3 linked regions of the Homo sapiens genome follow. The protein of the gene in region 3 purifies or fractionates together with the protein of the main gene of each other region. This does not show direct contact. Each region holds a gene or a part of one and is shown on either strand. Other genes may lie near its edges. The genes, in order: OCIAD1, SLC30A7 and UST.

The links.
Region 1: the proteins of UST (region 3) and OCIAD1 purify together in Homo sapiens (affinity purification with mass spectrometry; 2 studies listed by BioGRID and IntAct, with this or other methods). This does not show direct contact.
Region 2: the proteins of UST (region 3) and SLC30A7 purify together in Homo sapiens (affinity purification with mass spectrometry; 2 studies listed by BioGRID and IntAct, with this or other methods). This does not show direct contact.

What each region holds. Positions count from the first base shown.
Region 1 is NC_000004.12:48,858,471-48,862,123, reverse strand, and holds the end of OCIAD1 (OCIA domain-containing protein 1), read right to left. Parts: intron 1,968-3,653; exon of another isoform or gene 1,921-1,967; intron 1,400-1,920; coding exon 1,362-1,399; 3' UTR 309-1,361; downstream 1-308. UniProt on the Homo sapiens protein: Maintains stem cell potency. Increases STAT3 phosphorylation and controls ERK phosphorylation. May act as a scaffold, increasing STAT3 recruitment onto endosomes. Involved in integrin-mediated cancer cell adhesion and colony formation in ovarian cancer.
Region 2 is NC_000001.11:100,894,526-100,898,278, forward strand, and holds the start of SLC30A7 (zinc transporter 7), read left to right. Parts: upstream 1-1,564; 5' UTR 1,565-1,737; coding exon 1,738-1,817; intron 1,818-2,044; coding exon 2,045-2,146; intron 2,147-3,753. UniProt on the Homo sapiens protein: Zinc ion transporter mediating zinc entry from the cytosol into the lumen of organelles along the secretory pathway.
Region 3 is NC_000006.12:149,019,509-149,023,161, forward strand, and holds part of UST (uronyl 2-sulfotransferase), read left to right. Parts: intron 1-1,815; coding exon 1,816-1,973; intron 1,974-3,653. UniProt on the Homo sapiens protein: Sulfotransferase that catalyzes the transfer of sulfate to the position 2 of uronyl residues in glycosaminoglycan chains. Has mainly activity toward iduronyl residues in dermatan sulfate, and weaker activity toward glucuronyl residues of chondroitin sulfate.

The sequences.
Region 1 (3,653 bases), on a different chromosome or scaffold from region 3:
GGGGGTCTATTGGTCCAGGTTCCTAACGTCCACTATAAAATGGTGTAGTATTTACATATAACCAATGCACATCCTCCTATATACTTTAAGTCATTTATAGATTACTTGTAATGCCTAATGTAAATGCTATGTAAATAGTTATTACAATGTATTGTTTGGGAATAACAAGAGTTCAGTACAGACAACCATCCATTTCTCTCCCTCAAATATTTTCAATCTGCAGTTGATTGAATCTGCAGATACGGAACCCACAGATACGAAGGGTCACTGTACACCAATTTTTCTTTTTAACATAATATCAGTCTCTGTGATGTATACCAAATTTTTATTGTTTTAGAATTTACAAATTCTTTAAAAATGCTTTTTAAGGCATTTACCTATTTACTATATTATCAATTTATCTACATAAATCACATTCATTATATTTTTATTTTTTTAGACACAGGGTCTCACTCAGTCGCACAGGCTGGAGTTCAGTGGTGTGACCACAGCTCACTGCAACCCAGAACCACTGGGTTCAACTGATCCTCCCAACTCAGCCTCTTAAGTAACTAGGACTACAGGCACACGACACCATCGCCAGCTAATTTTTATTTTTTTGTAAAGACAGGGTCTCGCTTTGTTGCCCAGGCTGGTCTCAAACTCCTGGACTCATGCAATCCTCCCACTTCGGCCTCCCAAAGTGCTGGGATTACAGGCATGAACCACTGCCCACTGCCTCCAGCCATATTATAGATTTATAGCCATATTATAGCCATATTATAGAAATATTATAGATGACTTTATTTCCTATACCTACATGATTATAACTAGCTTAAAAATAAATCAATAAATTACAAACAATAAAACCATAAAATCAAGGAAGATGAGGGCTGTTGCATGTTCCTTTACATTTTATTTGCCATAAACATTAAGATAATACAGAAAATACTGGAGAAAAAAAGCTTTTTAATAATTTCTTGATGCAAAGCTTCACACTTAAAAATTATGCTTGCTCCCCCCATCCACCCCAATTCAACATGCAGATATCATTTATTTTCTTATATGCTGATTCTAGAGCATTGTAATCTCGACGGTTTTTTAAGAGTTATCTTTGCCCTTGCAACAATTTCACAAACTGTATACAATCATGGTATAATACCATCATTCAAATGAATCCCTAAGGTGAGTACATTTACACAATATTAACACTAAAAATCTGTGTTTTTTTAAAACACCATAGAAGTCAAACCACAAAAACCCAGGATCTTGTTTTAAATGTGTTTATGAAGACTGCTGCTGAGCTCAAAGCATGCAGGTAATCATGACCACCTAGATGAAGCTGGATGTTGAAACTCCTTCATGTCCAATGATGTAATTTTTCACTCATCCCAAGTATCTCCATACTTGTTTACTTTGACTAGGAAAAAAGCATAAATAATTGATGATTCCAAGCAATAATAAGTAAAAGACATTATTTTAAGTTTGTTGCTATGATGAAAAGTTATGTTTCTCTCTCATTTGAATAAAAGCACATGAGAGTCAAATTATAATTACAAAAAGGGGATGACCAGACTTTTGTGAACTTGGGGTTGGACAAATGCATTGTATCTAGAATTTTACATAAATAGTTAGTCCTCATAACAAACTTCTAAACACAATTCTCATTTTAATGGTGAGAAAAAAGATTAGTAACTTGCCCAAGGTACAAGCCCTAACAAGAACTGAGATTTGAGTATAGGTCTGTTTAGATCCAAAGCCTAGGTACCTTTACATCTTTACCATACTACCTAAGTGTGGCACATATTAAGCCATATACAAAAAAAAAAAAAAATAGTGGGAAATAATAAAACAAACATTTGAATTTTCGTTTTTCACAAAAAATACAGCAGTAGAAATGGTCAAGTGTTCAAGTTGTAATTAATTCAATCTTCTCTCTCAGGGCTGTAAATACTACTATAAGAAGAAAATACTACTACATTTTACAGGTACTCTATATTTTACATTTTAAAACATGCTCCGCTGTCTATTCTACTCCTTTACTTTTTTGCTTCTCTTCCACATAGCTTCTGTCTGTGAGTAATCATAACAATATAAAGCAGCAGTTATCACAGTGTGGACTCTTCAGGGAATACATGAAGTCAAAATTATTTCATTATTATACTAAGACATTATATATCCTTATGTTTCACATTTTGCCTTTTCCCCTTGCTCTCATTCCCTCATGAGTATATGTTACATGGTTTTCTAGAAGCTACAGGATGTGTGGTGACATTGCTCTGGCAGCTAATGGAATATGTGCTTGAATTTTTTAAATTTCTGGGTCTTAATTTCTAATTAGATAAATATCAACCACATAAGCTAAAGGTGAAAACTTTAAGTGACACTTTCTGACCATGTGAATCTACCCTGTACTAATTTCAACAATAATTCAGAAAATGACTGAAACTATTTCATAACAAGTCTTTTCTTTAAATTATATAAAGCACACAAAAAACCAGCTTTTCCCAAAAAAAGAAAAAATCATTTCACATTCTTGTGTCATGTAACAGAACTTGAAGACTTCAGTCAAAAATCAAAAATGTCAAAATCCAGCAAATGTTAAAGGTCTACCAAATTTCCTTTCTTAACCTCTATTACCATAGAAGCCTAAACCAAAATACTCAATTTCTGATACAGTGTAAAGTACTATGCTATGCAGACAATAATAGAAAAGATTACAAAAATGAGAAAAATATTACTTTCTGCCCTCACAGAGCTTACAATCTAAATCCTCAAATTAATTAGCAGGACAAAGTACCGACAAGTCTTTACATATTACAGAGCAATGGCCACTAGATGCAGTTTATGCTAAATGTTGTTTGATGACAAACATTCAAAAGTATGGTACATCCCTAATTCATTTCAAAGGTAGATTTTTTTTACATCAATAATATGATGCAGATATTATCTATCATTGTTATAAAAACAGAACTCCAAACGAAGCAACCGCTAATGATTAAAAATAAAATTAGCTCTAAAAAATGACCATAACAACAAATACTAAGGACTTTCATGTATTTTTGCATTCTTTGTGGCATATGACCTTCAAGAAGGTACCAAAGACCTATTATTTCCATTTTTAAAGTAGTAAATAGAAAATCTTGAAACAATGACACATACTCTGAAATTCCTTAAGAGAAAATCATAAAACCCTATACTGAAATAGCTATAAAACCCTATTCGAATGTCCTCTTCCTTTAGAGGTAAACTTGTATCAAAAAATTTACTTTGGCTAATGTATAGCTATTCCAAAAAGACTTAAAAGAAACCAGGATTTAAAAATTCATCTTTAAGAAATGCCTTAGAAGCTGGCATATAACTCTTTCAAATTCACAAATGTACAAGAAAGGTCAGGCACAGTGGCTCCCACCTATAATCCCAGCATTCTGGGAGGCCAAGGTGAAAGGACTGGTTGAGCCCAGGAGTTTGAGACCAGCCTTGGCAACATAGGGAAAAACCCACTGCACCAAAAAAAATTTTTAACAGCCAGGGATGGTGGCATACAACTGTAGTCCCAGCTACTCAGGAAGCTGAGGTAGGAGGACTGCTTGAACCCAGGAGGTCAAGACTGCAGTAAGCCATGATTACACCACTGCACTCCAGCCTGGGTGACAGAATAAAACCATCTCAAA
Region 2 (3,753 bases), on a different chromosome or scaffold from region 3:
ACTCCATACACACACACAAAGTTCTCAGAACGAGAGCAAAACATGCATATATCCTCACTACAAAAAGAAAAATACTAATACTGGAGCATTTTGCTGTGTCTCCTTACCTCGAGTGCAGTAGATTGCAGTAGGGCCAGCCGATTTATTTCCCTGCAGCTTAGTTATCATAAAACGGAAGGGGCGTCTCGTTTGCTCATTTTTGTTTTTTTTTCTAAACCAAGTAGCGTGCATCTATCCTTCTCCATTAGCTGGATTAACAACCTGGAAAAAGTGCCGCCCGCAAAGTGAGCGCCTGGAGCAAGGGACAGTCCCCGAGTGGCCGCCCCTCCCTTTCGGTGACGCTCCACTTCCTGTCGGCCTAAAAGGCATTCCCAGGAAGCTCGGTTTTGTAGTTTCCAGCCCACCTCCGAAAGCCAATCCTTTCCTCCATTTCTTCTCCAAGGTAACAACTTTTAAACATTCACGTGACGGACCACCTTCCCTCAGCCAAACAACTTCCCTGAAAGGCGCCCGAAGGAGCCTTCCCATCCACCGCGGGTGCCCAGGAAAGGCCTGTGGGGCTCTCCTCCCCGCGCTCCACACGCCCTCGCATCCCACCGAGGGGCCAGCTTCTGCCTGCACGTTGCTGAAACTGGCCTGGAGGTTCTGACAAGAATTAGAGCGGCGGCCGTTGCCCCGGGGATGACCTGGAAGCGAAAGAGACCGGCACGAATTCTAGAGTTTCGGGGTTTCCGCGGGTTGAGATTGTACGGGAAACAATGCATTAACCAAACCTAAAAATCAAACAAACACGTCTGGTAGAACCTACCATTAAAAAGCTTCTTTCCTATACTACGTTTAACAGCCTTTATTTTGAAAGACATTGATTGATGCCAGGCATGGTGGCGCACGCCTGAGGTCTCAGCTACTCCGGAGGCTGAGGAGGATCACTTGCGTCCGGGAGTTCCAGGCTGTAGTGAGCCTCATTGTGCTCCAGCCTAGGTGACAGGGCGAGACCTTGTCTCTTAAAAAAATAAAGAAAGAAAAACATTGATCGCCTCCTGCGTGGCAGTCCAGAAGGGTCAAGCGCTGTTTTCGGGGTGGCGTGGAATGGATTCCTAAGATTTGGGCGCCCATAGAGTTAACGCAGCAAAACGATCACTTGCGTTTCCTGCGGACTGGCGGCAATAGAACACGTGGCTGCCTAGACTCTTAATCACTGATATCTACCACACCAGGATTTAATGCCAGTTGGGAGGAAATGGCGAAAGGGCAGGCGCTGGAGCCCATGCATCCGGGAACACTGGTGGTAGGCGGTCGGGTGGGCGTGAGCGGGCTCTCCATCTCCCAGCCCAGTCTGCAGGTCGCCACCTCAGGATTTTCTTCCTGAGTCCGGGTGGCAGGATTCCATCCCAGGTCAGCCCCTCACACCCCCTGGTAGTTGCCACCTCCTGGCGTCCCTCCAACAGCTCCAGCACCTTTCTCATCCCGCCCCCGCCGCAAGCCACGCCCTCCGCCGCGCAGGCCCCGCCCGCGACCGGCCTCCCTCCTTTCCTGTCCCAGGACGCGTTGCGCGGCCCGGGCCGGAAGTAAGCGAATTCCCGGGTGTGTGTCTGTGTCTGTCTGTGTCTCGCAGCGGCGCGCGGCCCCGGACAAGCGCTGGGGATTCCCGTTTGAGGCGTCACTACTGTCACTGCCATCACCCCACGGAGCCACTTCTAGAGGGGAGTAGACCCGGCCCTTCGCCGGGCAGAGAAGATGTTGCCCCTGTCCATCAAAGACGATGAATACAAACCACCCAAGTTCAATTTGTTCGGCAAGATCTCGGGCTGGTTTAGGTGCGGGGTGCTGTGTTTGCGGGGAGGGGGTGTCCGGCAGAAAGGGAGAAGGCCCAGACCTCAGGATGGCCCGAGGTCCAGTGAGGGAGAGTCAAAAACTCCCCGTCAACCCCTAGCTGTGAAGAAAGGAGCATGTGAACTGGGAGGGTCTTGAAGAGGGTACCCAGCCTCGGGGTCCCGGCACCTCCTTAACTCTCCCGGCTCTTTTCCACGTGTATCATTCCCAGGTCTATACTGTCCGACAAGACTTCCCGGAACCTGTTTTTCTTCCTGTGCCTGAACCTCTCTTTCGCTTTTGTGGAACTACTCTACGGCATCTGGAGCAACTGGTAACCAAAGGGGAAAATGGTTTGGGCGGAAGCTGGGTGTGAGGGAGACGAAGCACTGTTTGCTTAATGCCACGTAGCTCCTCACTAGGAGGTTCAGGTCCTACCTTTGTTACCTACCTCTGCTGCTGAGTTGCTTTCTCATACCCACACCAATCTGGTAGGGCTACAGTTCTTGAGTAAGATCTGGGCCTATCCTGTGCAACCTCTCTTGTCACGCTCCCCTCCAGTTCCATCAGACAAGACTGACAAGCCCCTCCTTATTTTAGCAGATGGGCAGAATCTTTCATTTCTAATTGTAGGCCTTAGGTTTACCCACTTTGTTGGAATTGGGAGAAACTTGTTTGCTGCCTCTCTCGGGGGGGAGTGGCATTTGGATTTCACCCTTAAGATTCTGAGAGAGTATATCTGAGATGTTCTACTTAGTTTGTTATTGGGGCTTGGAATGGGAGGTTTTATAAAGTGATATCGGGAGGAATATGTGTCATTCTCTTCTCTCTTTAATGCCGAAACTGTCTCATGATTTTCCTGTAGTCTTAACTGCGATGTAAAAATCCCATATAGTTTCTAGAAACAACATTTCTTGGGTTTTGGTGGCACCTTTGAGGGTTTTTGTTTTTTTTGAAACATCCTTAGGAGGAGGAAAATCTAGTGTGTAACTCTGTGGCAGTGAAGTTACTATTATTCAGGTATTTGCTGTTGAGTAACTTAAGGTCTTATGAAGTTGTTCTGCTAACAAGACTGTCACACTCCTAGGTGTACTAATTCTGTCTTTAGATCCCATACTCCTTCAAAAATCTGATGAAAGCCAATACTCAGAATTGTACATAAAGCTTCAGGATGTTGTTGGGTTCCCTGTACTAAATCTTGGACTCTAGATTAAGAACCTGTTTTCTATTTATTAAATAGACTTAGTCTCTGTTGTTTAAGACCCATTTTCAGAGAAAATCGCTGTCCTTGATCTTCTGTTGAGATCAAACATTGACAGGTAATATCACCAGGTTTTGTGACATGTATACTTTTATATAATGCTTGGGCTTCTTTCAATTCAACCGTCAATTCAGTTCTATAAAAAATACTCAATAACCAGCAGATTATGAAGGTTATTGGTTTAGTCAACAGTTGGGTATAAAGGCATATTGGCACAATGAAATCTTAATATATGTAATAACCATTTTGAATCCTTTGGGAATCAGATGTGTTAATTTGAAGGATACCCCATCATAGATTAATTTTTTAATCCCATAGTATTAACACACTTTAATATACTGTAGATGTTGAAAGCACTTGTACTTGAATAATCATACTTTATCATAAATATATAATATTTACAGTATATTTTACATTTTTCTCTTCCTAAATTATGCCAAATTAATTTTGGGATATGTGCTGATTGTATCAGGAGTGTATCATAGCTTATATATGCATATTTTGTATCAAGAGTGTATCATAGCTTGTATATGCATATTTTGTATCAAGAGTGTATCATAGCTTATATATGCATATTTTGCTACAGATAGTTTCTATTGCAGTGTTTCACTATGGCTTTCCATTACATAAGTCACTCTGTGAAATATCTCATTCAAGAGATTCACACTTGAAGTTCCTAA
Region 3 (3,653 bases):
ACTTGTCACTACTCATCCCATGTTGTTTGTCTTTCTCTTTGGATAAAATGACAAAATGTCACATAAAATGTGATCGTGAAGACCAGGAGCGAACACCCAGCCTGCTCCTGTACAGTGACTGACTTAACCAACAACCTGCCCTCGTAGCATGTGTCACTGGGTCTGAGACACTGGAAGCCCACACCTCAATCCCATAGTGGATATACTTAGTAGGCAGAGAAGAAAGTGTTTTATAATGATCACCTGTCAACCTTACTTGAAGGCACAACCTTCTTTAGAGAGTGACTTACTCAGATAGTCAGGACCCCCAGGGTGTGATCTGCCCAGGTCCTGCATCAGCACCCCTGTATACTTGTTAAGAACCCCCACCCAATCATAGTCTCGTGTGTAGCAGCCTCCCCAGATGCTTCTGGCGTAGCTATAGTTGAAATCTACTGTGCTAGACAAATGTCATAGCCTGGAGAAGAAATGGCAGCAACAATGAAGCATTATATTTGCTTGGTAGGAAATCAACCCCTGCTATCAGAAGTGACATTATTCCCCAAAGGAAACATTAACTAGAGGGTCCTTGTGTTTCTGAAAAGGCCAAAGGAGAACTGCTACTTCTACACCGGCAACGCATTCATTGTACCTTTTTGCTTATGCTATGATTTCTGCTTCGTTTTTAGGCGTATTGTTGTTATTCCTGTCTTGTTTCATTTGCCATAACAAAAGAGTTTGCTTATAGTCCAAATTATAGAACTAGGAGTGTTGGTTTTTGACTTCACCATAAGCCCCCTGAGTCCAGGTGGCCTCTCCCCTGCCCCCGACCCTTGCCTCAATAACAAATACCTCCTGGTTAACATTTAGTGCTTCAGGTATTGGGAAGATTTGGGGCTGGATGACTCACTTGCTGATCACAGTGAATATCTTTATAACAGGAAACATGATTTGAACTCCCTAAAGTATTTTTTAAATCGTGTAGTATTTTTCAGATTTTTGAATTTTCTAATCTTGGAGAGGTGACTCATGACACCACACCTTGATACACACACAATGATTTTTATAACTCTTTCATCATATCACCTTGCACAGTCTTTACAACAATGCTTTGAACTAGGTAAGGGTGATTTTTACCATTTTTCAAAAGAGAACCCTGGCTTGCCCAATTCCCCCAAATGATAAATGACAGCCAGGCCTGGAGCCCCACTCCCGGGCTTTTCTCACTCGCCTTAGTGTCAGTTCAGAGAGCTGGCCTACAAATCAGCTCTCTGATTTTTACAAATTAGGCTGTTTTCCTTCTGCAATCTAGACAAACAAAATAAAACAAAACAAAAATCCAAAGATTCCTCTTTAACTCTTCCAAAGAATAAGATGATTAATAGGCATGACCTGACAGCTCTTTTGAGTTCTACATAAATACTATGTCGGTAAGTTTCATATTTCAAAACTCCTAAATTCATTTAATTGGTTCAGTTTGGTCCTCCTATTAAAAAACCATTCTACTCACCCCTTGATTAGTATTTGTTAGAACCTAACTGCTTGTGCCTGCATTCATTCGTCCACAATACTTAGGCAGGGCCTCTGAATTCAAGGCCCTGGGCTTGGCATGAAGCATGGATGAAAGTGACAGAGAAGGAATGGTGAGCAGGGCAGGACACCAGTTGGAAGGACTGGGAAGGCCCTGGATGGGGCTACATCTGGGCTGGTCCTTGAGGGAAACAGGATTTGGACTTATGCAAGTGAAGGTGGGAGGTAGAGGGGGTAAACTCTCAGCATCTTGCTGCATTTCAAATATGAATGTCTGATTTTAAATAAATTTTTATATCCATAAAGGGAGCCTGGTGAATGGGCCCTTGAGAGAGCAAAGCTGAACGTGAATGAAAACTTCCTGCTCGTGGGGATTCTTGAAGAGTTGGAAGATGTGCTGCTGTTACTGGAAAGATTTTTACCTCATTACTTCAAGGGCGTGCTCAGTATCTACAAAGACCCAGGTAACTTCATTTGTAAGCAAGCTCTTCTCCATGAGAGGTCTGTGTCCAGGGCTACTCACCTTGAAAAGGCCTCAGGAAATAAAGGAGTGAAATGATCTCTTCTGATGACAAAGGGCAGTTAGTTCCCTGGGCTTGCAAAGGAAAGTTAGAACCAGGAGCTGCAGATGCCAAAATCTTGAGCTTCATGTTCAGACATAAAAGCACCATGTTCCAAAGGCTTAATGGCTCCATTTCTCCCTATGGAAACTGAAATTGGCAACATTCTCCATCAGCCTTGTCTTGAGCATGTTGCTGGAAACTGAAACTGGCAACATTTTCCATCAGCCTTGTCTTGAGCATGTTGTTGGGGTGGGTACAAATGAATCCGTGTGTGTGCACCTGGACTCCATTGATGGAAACATGCGTGAGTATGAAAGAGCCATCCTTGTGATGAATTCTCTCTGGCCCAACTTCCATTTGATAAAAGCACTCTAGTGTATCAAATCCTGACAGTGGAATAGATAGAGCAGCAAATTGAAAATACAATTATGATTTTATCCTAACAAACCGAGTGGTCCCCAAATAGCAGCAAGAAATAGAATGTGGCAAAGCAATTACAAGGGCTGCCTGTGGTATCATCGTAAGTATAATTACTTTCAGAAATCCATCATTTATTTTTTCATTGTCATTTTATCCAAAGAGAAAGACAAACAACGTTGTTTGTTTTTTCCTATTCTCCTTAATCTACTGCTGTGACAACAAGCCTTGAATACACATTCAGTGATCTGTTTATTGTTCTGTTTTGTTGTCCTGAGATGGAAGAAGGCATTCTGCCCTGTAGAAATAAGCAGCAGATAGGCCCGGTGCGGTGGCTCATGCCTATAATCCCAGCATTTTGGGAGGCCGAGGCAGGTGGATCACCTGACGTCAGGAGTTCGAGACCAGCCTGGCCAACACGGAGAAACCCTGTCTCTACTAAAAATACAACAATTAGCCAGGTGTGTTGGTGGGAGCCTGTAATTCCAGCTACTCGGGAGGCTGAGGCAGGAGAATCGCTTGAACCTGGGAGGTGGAGGTTGCAGTGAGCCAAGATCGCGCCACTGCACTCCAGCCTAGGCGACAAGAGCGAAACTTCATCTCAAAAAAAAGAAAGAAAGAAAGAAGGAAGCAGCAGATGAAAGCTCCCCAAATGCAGTCTGCTGCCTCACATTCCACAGGGTTCCCGAACCCCACCTGCATCACTGGTAGGTCCCAAGGCCCAGGGAAACTGGTCTTTGCCCAGAGAGCCCTGGATCCCGTTGCACAAGGTCAAGGTGGCCCTACCACCATCAGGGACTTGCTGAAGGAAGGTGGATAGTTGGTGGAGGCTGCCTTAGCCTCCCAGCTCTCATTAGAGTTCAAATCCCATTTACCTGAGTGGGGTTGTGAAACTAGGATTTCCTTTGTCTTTTCAACAACAAGCCATTTAAAGAGTTTATAGAATTTTAATGTAAAGAGTTTGATGTGACTGATTTTTATTTCTAGAAGACAACATAAACTCCGTTCTTTGTGCAAGGAGAGGTCTTATCCTAAATTAGACTCCTTTGAAGAAGAAAGGTTTATGTTAATCATTTTCTCCTTTTGGCTTTATCTTGTTCTATGGTGTGTGTGTGTGTGTGTGTGTGTGTGTGTGTGTGTGTGTGTGTGTGTGGTGTGGTGTGG